Linked DNA regions of Homo sapiens. The protein of the gene in region 1 purifies or fractionates together with the protein of each later gene. This does not show direct contact. Each region holds a gene or a part of one and is shown in the gene's direction. Other genes may lie near its edges.

Region 1 (3,887 bases):
AGCCCTGGGTCTGTTGCGGGATGATCAAAGACTGAAGAGACCGAAAGTTCAGGAAAGTTTATTAAATTAAGGTGATCACCGGCTCAGCTAGTCTGAGCCCCAAACAAAGGGCTTTTCCTACTTTTAAATATCTTAAGGTGGGAACTACGTGAGGCGGGAATCGAGTTACAGAAGCAAGAAACAAAGGCAGTATTACAACGTTTGTTACATTTTGAGAAAGACATGTCTTGCAGCCTAAACTTATCAGTCTTGTGACCCTGCAGTCATGCAGGAACTCACTGGGCCTGTAATAAACTTTGAGGAATGTGGAGTTGGGGAGTATAGATAAGGTCCACTGTCCACAGAGAGAAGACAGGCTGTTAATATTCCCTTTTAACGTGAATGTAAGGCAGGGGTCACATTTTGCAGGAACTTTAAAAGGATTTTAAAATTTGTATTACTACTACTCTTAGGTTATAGTTGATTTCATTAATTCCTTCTTCATTTCCCCCTTTTGGTGCTCGACACAAATGTAGATTAATAAAGAGCACCACAGTTAGCTATTTCTTCTTGAGTGGGTACATACTCATCTTGGGATACCAGTTGGTACTTTTGCAGAGCCTTTATTCGGATGGTGGTATGTCTGTCTACCATTGAGTCTATGGTGGATTGGATGCTTCCGATTAGAAATGGCAAGAGACAGGGAAGCAGTAGGCATCCACCTTTTATGGCCACAAAGCCTAGTATTACAGTTTTAAAGCCTCCAAACCATGAAAACCGTCCTCCAAAGAGTGAACTCGGGTTCCAACCAGACCATGTCTGAACCAGAACATGAGCTAACTTCCGCATCCTGGCAGTGATTTCCATGACAGCTTTTCCATTGTCATCAATTTGTAAGCAGCAATTTGTTAAATTAAGTTTTCCACAAACCCCCTTCTGAAGCTAAAACATAATTCAGTACTAACCTGTTCTGATAAATGGCATCTCTCATCTGGGTTGCCTGTATGGCTAGCAAGTCTAAGGCTCAGGCTGTTTCATTGACTATAATTTCCAGAACTGCTTGCAACCTTATGATGTGGTTTAACATATAAATAGGAGTACAGTATCCCCATGACCCATCTTGTGCCCAGGGGGCCATTCATTATCTTTCCAGCCCCCTATTTCAATGTCCTTTTTAATGTTAGTATTTATTTTTTCCTCAGTACTTATTTTTGTAAACACATTTCTTTTGACTCTTTTTCTGCCTTCATCATAGACCAGATAGCTTAGATCTTCCCCTTGCTGCAGGGGGAGTAGCAAAAAGAATGGCCTTATTGTTCCTAATATACATGCCCCTGTCCATTTATCGGTTAGTAATTGATAAGCCTTTGTTCCACAGATCCTATATAATCCTGCAGGTGCTCTCCAAACAGTTGGAGCTTCTAATTGGTACCATGATTGATTTAGTGTTGGGAACTGCAAAAAGGGATTAAAGTGACACAGAGGAATCATCTATAAAGCTTCTCCATTGTGTTCTGTTCTCAGATTCTTCAAAATATTGTTGACCTAGGCAAGTTGTTTCCCCTATCTGGTTCTGAAAGGACTTGCCCCAACAGGCAATACAGTATTTTCCAATGATGGGGTTCCTTAATAGCCAAACACTTGGATTTGCATTGAATTTTGTAACAAATTCAGGCAAGGTAAAATTGTCTTGCAGCATCAATTCTCTGGCTTCCCAGGGCCATTGATCTCTCATATTAGCACCTCCACATACATAACAGGAAGTAACTCCTAAATTGTTAGCAATACTTTTGGCTAGCTGGACAAACAGATTTTCAGTTGATATAGGAGGAATTTGAATTTTTGATACTTCAGAATTAAAGTGTTCATTGAAAGATTTATAAAACCTGAACTGTTGTATTGGGCTAAGTTGAACTTGAGTCCTTTGGGTTTTCTTTGTGATGACCAGAGGAATACCAAGTCCTAGGAGAGCTCCTGCCTGATCAAAGGTTAGTAATCCTTTATGCCCTTTAGTCCAGAAAGTCATATTTGGCTTTAGTATTGTCAGATTGAGTGGGTAGCATGTTCCAGTTGTGTACCCTATCTTCTCCTCTTGGCTGGCAAACAGAGCAGCCCTTCCAGTGTATAGGTGCTGATTAAATTCATGTGTGGTCCACTGATTATCACAATCAGGGCACTCTTTTTCGGACTCTCCTATTATGGCCTTGGTGGCTCTGCTGCTGACTCTTTCTTGTCCTAGATTTTTACAGATGGTCCAAATATTATTTAGTTTACTGAGATGTGCAGCTTGGCAGGCATCAAAATATATGGAGACGGGCCCTTTATGCGCGTAAGTGAATACTTGCGTTTTGTTTACAAGTTTACTGACCCCAGTTTCTGTGGGGTTTGTATATGATGGCATTAGGGGTTCACCAAATTTGGACTTCAAATAAGAAGTCATAGGGCAAGAACTCTGGGTCATAACATATTTGGGGCTGCCCGTTTCCAGGATCACAGACTGAGTAATTAGTCTGGTTATAAACAACAAGTTCCTGTATGAGTCCCTGTACACTCATAGTAGGTCTGGTATAACAGAGTTTTAGTCACACCTTTTCCAGACCAGGCTTCTATCATACAGTGATGACAGTCATCCTGGTCCCCTTTTATAACCATAGGTGAAAGTGTCAGTGGCTTCAGTATTACTAATATGATTAAACTTATACTATGCATGGGCACCTTTCTGGGCAACAAGCTTGGCAGCATTTGCAAAGATAACATGACAGCAAAATAATTACTACAAGTAAGAGTATAACTATGTTTGTAAATTTAGTCTACATTTACTTATGTATCATTGACTTCCTCAGGCTTCAGCCATGCATAGACTAGTCAGCTTCCATTTGTGTGACTAGAACAGGGCTCGATGTTTCCTCAAGCTTCAGCCGTGCGTGGACCAACCAGCCTCTGGTGTGGTTGAAGCAGGGCAGTTGTCCTTGTCAGCAGTGGCTTGGTTTCACCACAGGATCAGCCATGTTGAGTGGTCTGGGTTTTGTTGACTTGTCCACTGGTCCTGGGTGGTGGCTGCTTCTGGTTTCAGCCGGCTATGATGAACCCAAGGTATGATACCTGCAACTTTAACAGCAGTGGGAGTAGACAAGATCACAATATGGGGACTATCCCATAAAGGCCCTAAAGTGGTTGGGTTCCATTGTTTGACCCAGACAGAGTCTCCAGGTTAGAAGGGTTGTACTGCATCTGTGAGGCTAACAGGTATTCTTTCTCTTACCCATCCTTGCATTTCCTGCGAGACCTCACCTAAGGCTTGCATTTGCCTTCTTAAGGTTAATTCCCCAATTTTTTAAATCCCCGTTTATCTGAGTTATGATCAGGGTGTCGGCCAAACACTATCTTATAGGGTGAATACCCAGTTAATTTAGTAGGGGTGCACCTGACTCAGAGAAGGACCATGGGCAGCACCTGATCCCATCTTAGATGAGTTTCATGGCAAAACTTTTTTAACGGCTGTTTGAGTGTCCGGTTTATTCTTTCAACTTTCCAGAACTCTATGGGTGATAAGCTGTATGCAGTTTTCATTTGATTTTTAACCTCTGTGTTAGCTGTTGTACTATTTCTGCCACAAATGCTGGGCCATTGTCTGATCCTAAAGTTAGAGGCAGTCGAAATCTAGGAATAATGTCCTTTAGTAAGATTCTGGTTACTTCCCGAGCTTTCTTTGTCCTGGTGGGAAATGCCTCAACCCACCCTGAGAAAGTGCAGACAAACACTAGCATGCACCGGTAGCCTCCGGTTCGAGGCAGCTCAGTAAAGCCCACATGCAGGTTTTCACAGGGTGTAGCTCCAGTTTCTTGAATCCCTGGGGGCCATGTTGGCCCCTGCTGTGGATTGTTTGGGGCACAAGTTAAACATTACTC
Region 2 (3,887 bases), on another chromosome or scaffold:
GGATTGCACCACGCCCAGTCCGCTGCTCTTATTTTTAGTCTAAACAGTGATGTGTCCTTATAGCAGGTGATCCAGTCATCACCAGTAGTCTCTGTCAGAGGTTGACAAATAACAGCCCACAACTTGCTTGCCTGTTTTTGTAAGTAAAGTTTTATTGGCATGCAGTCACACCCATTCATTTACATATTGTCTGTAGCTGCTTTCACACTGCACCTCAATTGAGGATCAGGACAGTGACTGTGTCACCTGCAAACCTAAAATATTTCCCATCTGGCCCTTTTGAGAAAAAGTTTGTTAACCCCGATCTAGCTCTTTTCTTGTAGTTAATGAAGCAACACTTGTGAGCCTGGACTCTGTTCACCAGAGACGTCTCGATGTTTCGAGTTCTTACTGATACACTTATGCTGAATTTGATTATACTTATATTAGTGCTCAGACCAATTTCTAATAGTCCAGTGGAATGTCCAAAGTGAACAAGTACATACTTGGCCAAGTTTCTTGTAAAAAGAAATGAATGTGGCATCCTGCTGAAAGTGAATCCTGTTTGCTGAAGCATAACTGGCTTTGACAGATTGTCTGCCGAAGTTCAACGCCCATTGAGATGGCCGTGAAGGAGAAGATTTCTATGTTTTGTCACGTGAACCCTGAACAGGTTGGTGCTGCTCTTTAGATTTTATTGTCTGGCAGGCACTTCTGCTGATGCCAGTGTTTTGTACCTCTTCAATGATCATATTACTTTTCACGGCATTTATGCAAGCACTGGGGAACCCTGATCCAACCATGATTCCCTAGCCCTTAAGTGAGATAGGATGCATGTTTCTTTGCATGATCACTCAACTTATGTCACAAAACCAGGGTGGGCTTTCTTTTCTTGAGACAGAGTGTCACTCTGTCACCCAGGCTGGAGTGCAGTGGCATGATCTCAGCTCACCGCAACCTCTGCCTCCTGGGTTCAAGCAATTCTCTTATTTTAGCCTCCTGAGCAGCTGAGATTATAGGCATGCGCCACCACGCCTGGCTAATTTTTTTGTATTTTTAGTAGAGATGGGGTTTTGCCATGTTGGCCAGGCTGGTCTCGAACTCCTGACCTCAGATGATCCGCCCGCCTCAGCCTCCCATAGTGCTGGGATTACAGGCGTGAGCCATCGTGCCCAGTACCAGGGTGGGTGTTTAACTCACAGTCAAACCTCTAGAGAGAGAACCACATGAAGCCTACTTATCATCTCTTTATCTTGTGTTTCCTTCTGGAACACTTACTGCTTTCACTCATTTCTCCTCTCTACCTGTGGCAGCTTAAGTCACCCCAAACACACGAGCACGTTGACATTCGCACTAGCTCTTCTGACTCCATCAGTGGGCTCAGTTGACTTCATTGGTACAGAAACTGTACTGTGATTTGGGCTTAGGTTCTCTGCTCTGTAGGGCTTTCCACCTTGGTATTCTGATAATTCGCTTTTCTTTTTTCTTTCCTTCTCTCATCTCTGTCTCTTGATTCCAATAAGGCTTGGTTATAAGGGATTGGAGTTACCTATAGTTTAAAGAGAGTGATATAAATGGTGCTCAGGAAAAGGGTGAGGTTTGGCAGAAATCTTTTCTTCAGATTATAACTCTGGGTTCTCTGAAGTCTAAAAATGATCAAATTGAATTTTGGCATCTTGGAAAATAGTCTGATGGAGAGCCCCCTGCCTGATGCCTCAGAGTCATTGCCGAAGTCTGAACTACTTTGAAAAATGTGATGGCAGATTGAAGGGACACTTCTGCATCTGTATGTTGATATGTTGTCATGCCATTTTGTTTGCGTCCAATCTTTTTTTTTTTTTGAGACAGAGTTTCACTATTGTCACCCAGGCTGGAATGCAGTGGTGCACTCTTGGCTCAGTGCAACCTCTGCCTCCTGGGTTCAAGCGATTCTCCTGCCTCAGCCTCCTGAGTAGCTGGGATTATAGGTGTGTGTCACCATGCCTGGCTAATTTTTGTATTTTTAGTAGAGATGGGGTTTCACCATGTTGGCCAGGCTGGTCTTGAACTCCTGACCTCAGATGATCCGCCTGCCTCAGCCTCCAAAAGTGCTGGAATTACAGGCGTGAGCCACCACACCTGACCTGTCCAATCGTTTTGTGTACACTTCTTTTTTTTTTTTGAGATACAGTCTTGCTCTGTCACCCAGGCTGGTATGCAATGGTGCGATCTCGACTCACTGCAACCTCCGCCTCCTGGGTTCCAGCGATTCTCCTGCGTCAGCCTCTTGAGTTGCTGGGATTATAGGCACATGTCACCATGCCCAGCTAATTTTTGCATTTTTAATACAGGTGGGGTTTCACCATGTTGGTCAGGCTGGTCTCGAACTCCTGACATCAGGTGATCTGCCCGCCTCGGCCTCCCATAGTGCTGGGATTAGTTTTCTAATTAAATGAAGCTAACCTTGTGCAAATTCTGATGCTAGCTTTGGTTGCTGGGTTTTTGTGTGTGCGTGTGTGTGTGTTATATCAGTGTAAATAAACTGCCAGTCTCTGCTGAATTTTGTTTCATTCTTGTGGTGGCATATTTGAATAGATCCATCTAAGTATGGTGATTTCTCATCGCCACTTAGGTCATATGTATCCATGATGTTTCTTCCACATACCGAGTTCCTGTGCTTTTAGAGGAACAAAGCATTGTGAAATATTTTAAGGAGAGATTGCACCTGCCCATCGGTGATTCTGCAAGTAATTTGCTTTTTAAGTGGAGAAATATGGCTGACAGGTAAGCGAAAGGAATTACTTGTATAATCTTTAATAATTTTTGAGTTTGGGGGTAGAACTAAGACCTACTTGAAAGGGTAAGCGTGTGTATTTGGCATTTTGCGTGTGCACATTTTGGTCTGGATATGTCTAAAGATGGAGCATACTGTTGCGGTGCTTTGCTGTATTATTTGAAGATTTCTGGAGCCTTTGATTTTGTTATACATAAACCAAAGTGAATTAAAGGAATTCGAATTCTGGAAGGAATGTTTTTTTAGCTCTGGAAGGATTCTGATTTATTTGATTTATTTGCTAGTTCATTTTTTAGTTTCTGAATATTTAAAATTTTTTTTTGTTTGTTTTCTTTTTTCTTTTTTGAGAGTCTTGCTCTGTCACCCAGGCGGGAGTGCAGTGGCACGATCTCGGCTCACTGCAACCTCCACCTCCTGGGCTCAAGTCATCCTCCCACTTCAGCCTCCTGAGTAGCTGAGACTAGAGGCACACACCACCACACCCGGCTAATATATATTTTTTTTTTTTTGTAGAGACGGGATTTTTCTATGTTACCCACACTGGTCTTGAACTCCTGGGCTCAAGTGATCTGCCCACCTTGGCCTCCCAAAGTGCTGGGATTATAGGCATGAGCCACCATGCCTGGCCTTAAACAGTTTTAAACTTCACAGGTTTTTTGTTTTGTTTTGTTTTGCTTGTTTTTAAGATTTGGCTAACTTTTCCTAAAGAAAATCATTTTGGATGGGAACTTTTGGCTATGCTAGTTTTGTTTCATCCTGCATTCATTAACTGTTCAGCATAATTATTAAAACTCCTGATGGATTCTAACTTTCAGACAAGTATATTAATTTAAGCAAAGTTTCTCTATTTTGAAGTTATATGAAAATTAAGCTGTGTGCAGTGGCACTTACCTGTAGTCTCAGCTACTTGGAAGGCTGAGGTGAGAGGATCACTTGAGCCCAGGAGTTGGAGGCCAGCCTGAGCAACATAGCGAGACCCTGTATCTTAAAAAAAAAAAAAAAGGGAAATTAAGTCCCTGTCACTTGTTTTCTTTTTTTTTGAGATGGAGTGTCACTGTGTCGCCCAGGCTGGAGTGCAGTGGTGCGATCTTGGCTCACTACAACCTCTGCCTCCTGGGTTCACGCCATTCTCCTG
Region 3 (3,887 bases), on another chromosome or scaffold:
AAAGATAGATACACTTTTTTTAAATTCTTGTTTTAATTCTACCTCATAATTGCTTTGTCAGGTAAATCTCGATTTAAACACCAAGTTTTCTTACAGTTTTTTTTTCACCATCGGAATAACCTGGATATAAATGTTGTGATTAGACAAGTTTATCATCTCATGGAGACCACGCCTACTGACATTCATCCAGACAGCATGCTTAATGTTTTTGTTGCACTGACAAAAGGGCAGTATCCAGTATTTAATCAATATCCAAAGTTTATTGTGGACTATCAAACACAGGAACGAGAAAGAATAAGGAATGATGAATTGGATTACTTAAGAGAGAGGTAATTATGGAATAGTTTTTCTTTTTCTGATACAATGAAATATGTTATAAACATAAGAAAGTTTTAATGAAAAATACATTTGGCTGAGCGCGGTGGCTCACGCCTATAGTCCCAGCACTTTGGGAGGCCAAGGCAGGTAGATCACAAGGTCAGGAGTTCGAGACCAGCCTGGCCAACATGGTGAAACCCCGTCTCTACTAAAGATACAAAAAATTAGCCAGGCATGGTGGCACGCCCCTGTAGTCCCAGCTACTCAGGAAGCTGAGGCAGGAGAATCACTTGAACCCAGGAGGAGGAGGTTGCAGTGAGCGGAGATCATGCCATTGCACTCCAGCCTGGGCGACAGAGTGAGACTTCATCTCAAAAAAAAAAAAATGCATTTAAATTATGAGTATTTGTGTAAAATCAGAGTTTGAAGGCTAGAAATATTAAAGATAGTTAATTCTTGCATATGGAAATAAAATAGATTATACATTAATCGGTATACATTTTGTGTTTTGATGATTCTTAGCTTTCTTCTTTGTGTTTTCATAATAATATTACCTACTTAAGGCAGACAGTTGAAGATATGCAAGCTAAAGTCGACCAGCAAAGAGTTGAAGATGAAGCTTGGTACCAGAAACAGGAGCTGCTTCGTAAAGCTGAAGAAACAAGAAGAGAAATGCTCTTACAAGAGGAGGAGAAAATGATACAACAAAGACAGAGGTATGTGTTATCACTTTAAAAAAAAATCTGGACATATAAGTTAGTTGAATAATTTTTATGTTCTTTCATTTTTTCATTTTAGAAACAACATTATATATAGGATTACCCAGCTGTAGCATTTCTATAAAGCAACTATTAAGTTAATAAAAAGAATCTTTATATACCACTTTTCAAAAAAAATTGCTATGTAGTAAAATGTAATTCTGAAGCTATGCTGAATATAATATAGCTTTGCATGGATTAATGTTCCTTGAAGGACATTATTTAGAAACATTATTCTATAGTGGGCAGAAATGCTTTGTAATAGAATGCTAGGTACATCACCTTTAGTAGAGTATAATTTTTTTAATTGTGTTTTAAACATACCTGTGTGACCTGACAGTTGTAACATAGAATGATTATGTCATTACCCATTTAACACTTTGGAGGACAGGGGAATGAGTATTAAATGCGTATTCAAAAGTACGTTAGCTGGGTGTGGTGCCACATACCTATAGTCCCAGCTACTAGGTAGGATCACTTGAGCCCAGGAGGTCAAGGCCAGCCTGGGCAACATAGTGAGACCCTGTCTCTTAAAAAATAAAAAGAAAAAACTTAAAAATAAATACATAAAAGTATGTTAATAAGGTAAAATGTGTAAATTAAGTAAAGTAATGGGATAAACATTGAGACTAAGCCCAATAGTTGGGAAACTCACTTCTGTGTTTATTGATTCCTATTCTTAGATGGAACTTTATGTAACAGATTTATAGTGTGGGTTAAAAGGAATTACTGAACTGAGCCAGTGAGCTTTCTACTAAAATTCTTAAAGCATAAGTATACATCATCTTTGGTAACGGTGGAGCAGTTCTCGCATTCTTCTTTCAAATAAAGGATATCAATTGTATTGAAATGATCAGCATGGCAGACCTGTTATGAAAAAACTAAATCATATTAGGAATTGCTGTATTTGTTCCACTTGATGTATTTTGTATTTAAGGCTAGCTGCTGTGAAAAGAGAGCTGAAAGTAAAGGAAATGCACTTACAAGATGCTGCAAGAAGGCGTTTTCTGAAGCTTCAGCAAGATCAACAGGAAATGGAACTAAGAAGACTGGATGATGAAATTGGGAGAAAGGTTTATTATTCTTAACTTAGTTCTCATACATCATCTCCATTTACTCTCACTTAAATGTAATGAACACCTTCAAATTAAATAATATTCTTAGAGTCCACCATGAATACTAAATAGCCGCTTTAATTTTATTTACTTTTCCCCTCAGCTTTCTCATTCTCTTTTGTATTTCATGAATGGCTAAATATTTAAGAAATGCCAGGAAAATTAGTCAAGTGTCCTTGGTGACTATTTCTCTAAAACTAGAAATATCAGTATCAGTTAGCCATTAAGTTATTTTTTCTTTTCTTTTCTTTTTTTTTTTTTTTTGAGACAGAGTCTTGCTCTGTTGCCCAGGCTGGAGTGCAGTGGCGTGACCTCAGCTCAGTGCAACCTCCGCCTCCCGGGTTCAAGTGATTCTCCTGCCTCAGCCTCCCAAGTAGCTGGGATTACAGGTGCACGCCACCACACCCAGCTAATTTTTGTATTTTTCTTAGAGACGGGATTTCATCATGTTGGCTAGGCTGATCTCAAACTCGTGACCTCAGGTGATCTGCCCACCTTGGCCTCCCAAAGTGCTGGGGTTACAGGCGTGAGCCACCAAGCCCGGCAGTTAATTTTTAATTAGGGGACATATTCTTTTTTCATATAAAAATTATCTGTGGCCAGTATAAAAATAATTTCCAGTACAAAACATACAGAATTAAAAATTGACCTTCTCCATTAGTTCTCATGTCATCCCCAGAGAAACACTATTAAAAAATGGTTAATTGGCTGGGTGCGGTGGCTCATGCCCGTAATCCCAGCACTTTGGGAGGCCGAGGCAGGCAGATCACCTGAGGTCAGGAGTTCGGAACCAGCCTGGCCAACATGGTGAAACCCTGTCTCTACTAAAAATACAAGAATTAGCTGGGCATGGTGGCAGGCGCTTGTAATCCCAGCTACGCAGGAGGCTGAGGCAGGAGAATTGCTTGACCCTGGGAGGTGGATGCTGCAGTGAGCCGAGATCATGCCACTGCACTCCAGCCTGAGCGACAGAGTGAGACTCAGTCTCAAAAAAAAAAAAAAAAAAAAAAAGGTTAATTACATAGACTTTCAGGTATGTTCTATAGATAGAGGAGTAATTATAGTCATGTTTTCCTATATTTATACAAAAATGGGATTATTCTCATTATACATTGTTTTTGTAACCTGCTTTTTAAAATTTCATATGCTGAATATCTTTTCATATTTGTTATATGTGTATCTATTTCTCTTTTTGTGGTTGTATAATATTCCATTGAATTAATAGCTTATTTAATCCTTTGCTATTGGACATTTCGGTTATTTGCAGTGTTTTGCAAATTACAAAACCATGCTACATTGTAAAAGTCTTTGAGTACTTGCACACATACTTTTGTTGAGTAACTTCTAAATTATGACAAATTGTTCTCTAAAAATGAAACAGTTTCAGCTGTTTTAAGTCTGTAAGAGTACCCACTCCCTAGTATAGTCAATTGTACTGCATCAGTCTTAATATTTGCCAAGCAGATAGATGACAAATCGTCTATTTTAATTTGCCTTTTTTTATTGTTAGTGAGGTTAAGTATCTTTTCTGTTACTTATCTTCCATGTGTAGAATTACACATTACATATTTGTATCATTTGTCCATCTTTTTGTCAAGTTAGACTTAACTTTCTGTCAGGTTAGCTTACTTATTTCCAAAAGGCAAGTCAATTGTCCCAACACCATTTGTTGACTATTATCCAAGTCATTTGCCAA
Region 4 (3,401 bases), on another chromosome or scaffold:
GCAATCTGAATTAGTCTCTGGTGTTTAAGTCAGATGATTTCAGCAACAAACTCAGTTTTCCAATTTCCCTGGAAAAGTCGGATCTGTGACCTTGGCCGGTCCCCCAACAGCGTCTTTCCGTGGGGGACACCGGGTGGAGCTGAGTGCAGCTGCCCCTTGGACAAGGTCCCCCCACCCCCGGTCCTCACAATAAGTCAGCTGTCCTGGGCTGGGGGACTCATGCTGTTTTCCCCACAGAACAATCAAGAGGTGACAGAAACAGCTTTTATTCTCTCGCTCGTGTGCTAAGGAGGGAGACATGGGTCAAACCAGAGAGGCTCACGTTCTCCAAGTCTGCCCACCCCGGGGCCACAGAGCCCTCCCGCTTGCTGGGATACGACAGACAGGCTTGGTTCATGCAAATGCTCGTTACCAGGGCCAGACCCAATCTCAGCATCTGGAATAAACAGCTGCTGTTATGTAGCAACAGCCGACCCCTGGGCTGCTGGGCTGTGGTGCCAGCGTGAGTGCCCACCGGGCTGGGAGGCCGCCACCGCAGGGCTGGGTCCTGGGTCCCCATCAGGGCCACCCCAGTTCCTGGTCAAGTGCAGCCTCGGTCTTGTGTGTGCCTGGTGCCTGGGGCTGGGGTTGACCCTCTCACACCCAACCTGGGGGCCACACTTGTTCCCCCACAGCCTCCCAGGCTGGCCCCTGGCTTTACGTGCAGAGAAGCTGAGCCCCAGGTGGGGTGGGGGTGTCATCCACAGTCAGCGAGCATCCAGACCCAGGGCTGCAGGGAACCCTGGACGGAGACAGGCGTGCGGCGTAGGGGTGGCCAGCAGCTGTGAGGACCAGCTTGGACCTAACAGCTCACGTAGGGGTGGCCGGCAGGCCCTGACCACACCTCGGTCTCCTGCAGCTGGTGGTCCTGGCCGTGGAGCATACGGCCTTGGCCCTAATGGAGATCAAGGTCTGCGACGGCCAAGAGCACGTGGTCACCGTCTCGCTGAGGGACGGTGAGGCCACCCTGGAGGTGGACGGCACCAGGGGCCAGAGCGAGGTGAGCGCCGCGCAGCTGCAGGAGAGGCTGGCCGTGCTCGAGAGGCACCTGCGGAGCCCCGTGCTCACCTTTGCTGGCGGCCTGCCAGGTAGGTGCTCCCTGCTCCGCTCAACCCGGGTGAAGAGCTCCAGGGAGGCCCAGCTTGGTCACCCCAGATCTAACCTGGACAGGCTGGGGTTTCTGGTAGTGAATGCGGAAGAGGACTTGTGTTTTAAGAGGAAGGAGAAGTCCAGGTGGGTCGTTAGTGGCTATTATGGTGTCTCGGTGCTGGTCAGGTCATTGGCTGAGACTGAGAAACACGTACGGGGGCCGGCATTGGCCTGAGTCAGGCCCCACGAACCTGCATCTTCAGGGAGCATTCGTCCACACCCATCAGACCAGCCCCGGGGGAGAGGGCTGGGCAGACCTCGGGCCAGGCTGCAGTTGGGACCCGCGGCTGTCACCGCAGCTGTTAGCAGCGAACAGAGTGACCGCCAGCCCCTCCCATGTCCAGCAGGGCGTCCTGCCGTGTCCCATGGGCTACACAGCACAGAGGCTGGGACCGGGGATGTCCTTGCCATGAGCTGGGAGGGTCAGCGGAAAGGCACGTGGGAGCCGGCAAGTCCTCGGCTGCCCGCAGGTTTTCACTTGCGGCAAACGGCAGGATTTCTCTCTTGGCTGCCAGACACAGACTCCACTTAGTTTTAATAAACAGAGCTTTGAAGAGGATGAGAGCGAGCCAGGAGGCCTGCAGCCTGAATGACTCACTGGGCACAGAAGAAGATCACGTTTAACCGATGGGACTGTCTGTGCTCCCAGCGGGGAAGGGAGGGCTGGCGTCTGCAGAGCCCAGGCTGGCAGATGCCTCCTGCTTGTCTGCCGGGTCTGCGGCCAAACGAACGGGGACCGAGAAGTTAGAGAAGAAAGGGAAACCCTGCCCTTTCGGAGGGAACCCGGGGCTGGCCACAAGCGCTGCCGGGGGTGGGGGGGCCAGGCGGGGCCGGCCACGTGGTGAGCTAAGATATGTTGTTCTCTCCCTGCGGCCCAGATGTGCCGGTGACTTCAGCGCCAGTCACCGCGTTCTACCGCGGCTGCATGACACTGGAGGTCAACCGGAGGCTGCTGGACCTGGACGAGGCGGCGTACAAGCACAGCGACATCACGGCCCACTCCTGCCCCCCCGTGGAGCCCGCCGCAGCCTAGGCCCCCACGGGACGCGGCAGGCTTCTCAGTCTCTGTCCGAGACAGCCGGGAGGAGCCTGGGGGCTCCTCACCACGTGGGGCCATGCTGAGAGCTGGGCTTTCCTCTGTGACCATCCCGGCCTGTAACATATCTGTAAATAGTGAGATGGACTTGGGGCCTCTGACGCCGCGCACTCAGCCGTGGGCCCGGGCGCGGGGAGGCCGGCGCAGCGCAGAGCGGGCTCGAAGAAAATAATTCTCTATTATTTTTATTACCAAGCGCTTCTTTCTGACTCTAAAATATGGAAAATAAAATATTTACAGAAAGCTTTGTAACACCGCGTGGCCGTCATCTGCTCCCCGCGGGGTTCTGCACACGTAGCAGCGTTTGGGATGAGCGGGGCTGCCAGGGCTCCAGGCCGCACCCTCAGCCGCTCCAAAGATCCCTCCCTCTTTTCTGCTCCCAGCCTGGTTGGGCAGCCACGGTCTGCTCCCCAGGAGCCTCTGACTCCTCTGGTAGTGGCGGCAGGGGCTGGAGCCTCAGTTTACTTGTTCTGTAAATGCGGAGAACGCCCTGCTCGGCCCCCACCACAGGCAGCCAGTCATTGCTGAGTGAGGAGGGCTTGGCACACAAATGCAGGCTGCTGGGGCAGCGGCCTCTGAGCCAACCTGGGAGGGACCCCGAGCTGGGACCGAGGGCCGGAAGACACCGAGGCAGCGCCTGCACCCCTGTGCCATTCCCGTCCCCACCCTCCTGCACAGATCCACTTGCTTCCGGGCCTCAAGTGTGTTCTGTTGAGAAAGGGAAACTGCTTTCTCTGTGTCGGTCTGGGGTAGAGCTTGCCAGGAGCAAAGCCAGCCCTGCTTCCCGCGTCCCCACTGGCAGGGTCCCCATGTCCCTCAGCCTCAGCTTCCTTGTCTGCAAGGGGTGGAGCGGTCACTGGTGCTCTCTGACCCCAGCAGGCCACAAGTCTGCAGGGAAGGTCAGGGCAGCCGGAACGCGGCCAGGCAGGTGCCTGAAATGCAGTCGGGACCCTGCCTGCCTCCTGGAAGGATGTCGGAGCCGCAGCTGGTGGGGGCCACGGAGTCACTGCTTCTCCTTGGTCCCAAGGGGACGACCAAGACTCATGGCTTGACGCTCCCGTGGGACGCGGCCACCTGTGCTCGAGCCTCTGGGCCAAACATGGGTCCCCAGGGTGGA

What was found. The genes of interacting proteins can lie anywhere in the genome.
Region 2: the proteins of IL22RA2 (region 1) and CTPS2 purify together in Homo sapiens (affinity purification with mass spectrometry; one large-scale study listed by BioGRID and IntAct). This does not show direct contact.
Region 3: the proteins of IL22RA2 (region 1) and TBC1D31 purify together in Homo sapiens (affinity purification with mass spectrometry; one large-scale study listed by BioGRID and IntAct). This does not show direct contact.
Region 4: the proteins of IL22RA2 (region 1) and GAS6 purify together in Homo sapiens (affinity purification with mass spectrometry; one large-scale study listed by BioGRID and IntAct). This does not show direct contact.

Annotation. Positions count from the first base shown.
Region 1 is NC_000006.12:137,166,850-137,170,736, reverse strand, and holds part of IL22RA2 (interleukin-22 receptor subunit alpha-2 isoform 1 precursor), read left to right. Parts: intron 1-3,887. UniProt on the Homo sapiens protein: Isoform 2 is a receptor for IL22. Binds to IL22, prevents interaction with the functional IL-22R complex and blocks the activity of IL22 (in vitro). May play an important role as an IL22 antagonist in the regulation of inflammatory responses.
Region 2 is NC_000023.11:16,688,305-16,692,191, reverse strand, and holds part of CTPS2 (CTP synthase 2), read left to right. Parts: intron 1-571; coding exon 572-652; intron 653-2,590; coding exon 2,591-2,742; intron 2,743-3,887. UniProt on the Homo sapiens protein: Catalyzes the ATP-dependent amination of UTP to CTP with either L-glutamine or ammonia as the source of nitrogen. Constitutes the rate-limiting enzyme in the synthesis of cytosine nucleotides.
Region 3 is NC_000008.11:123,128,185-123,132,071, forward strand, and holds part of TBC1D31 (TBC1 domain family member 31), read left to right. Parts: intron 1-61; coding exon of another isoform or gene 62-96; coding exon 97-329; intron 330-881; coding exon 882-1,034; intron 1,035-2,013; coding exon 2,014-2,149; intron 2,150-3,887. UniProt on the Homo sapiens protein: Molecular adapter which is involved in cilium biogenesis. Part of a functional complex including OFD1 a centriolar protein involved in cilium assembly.
Region 4 is NC_000013.11:113,819,684-113,823,084, reverse strand, and holds the end of GAS6 (growth arrest-specific protein 6 precursor), read left to right. Parts: intron 1-898; coding exon 899-1,127; intron 1,128-2,066; coding exon 2,067-2,221; 3' UTR 2,222-2,536; downstream 2,537-3,401. UniProt on the Homo sapiens protein: Ligand for tyrosine-protein kinase receptors AXL, TYRO3 and MER whose signaling is implicated in cell growth and survival, cell adhesion and cell migration.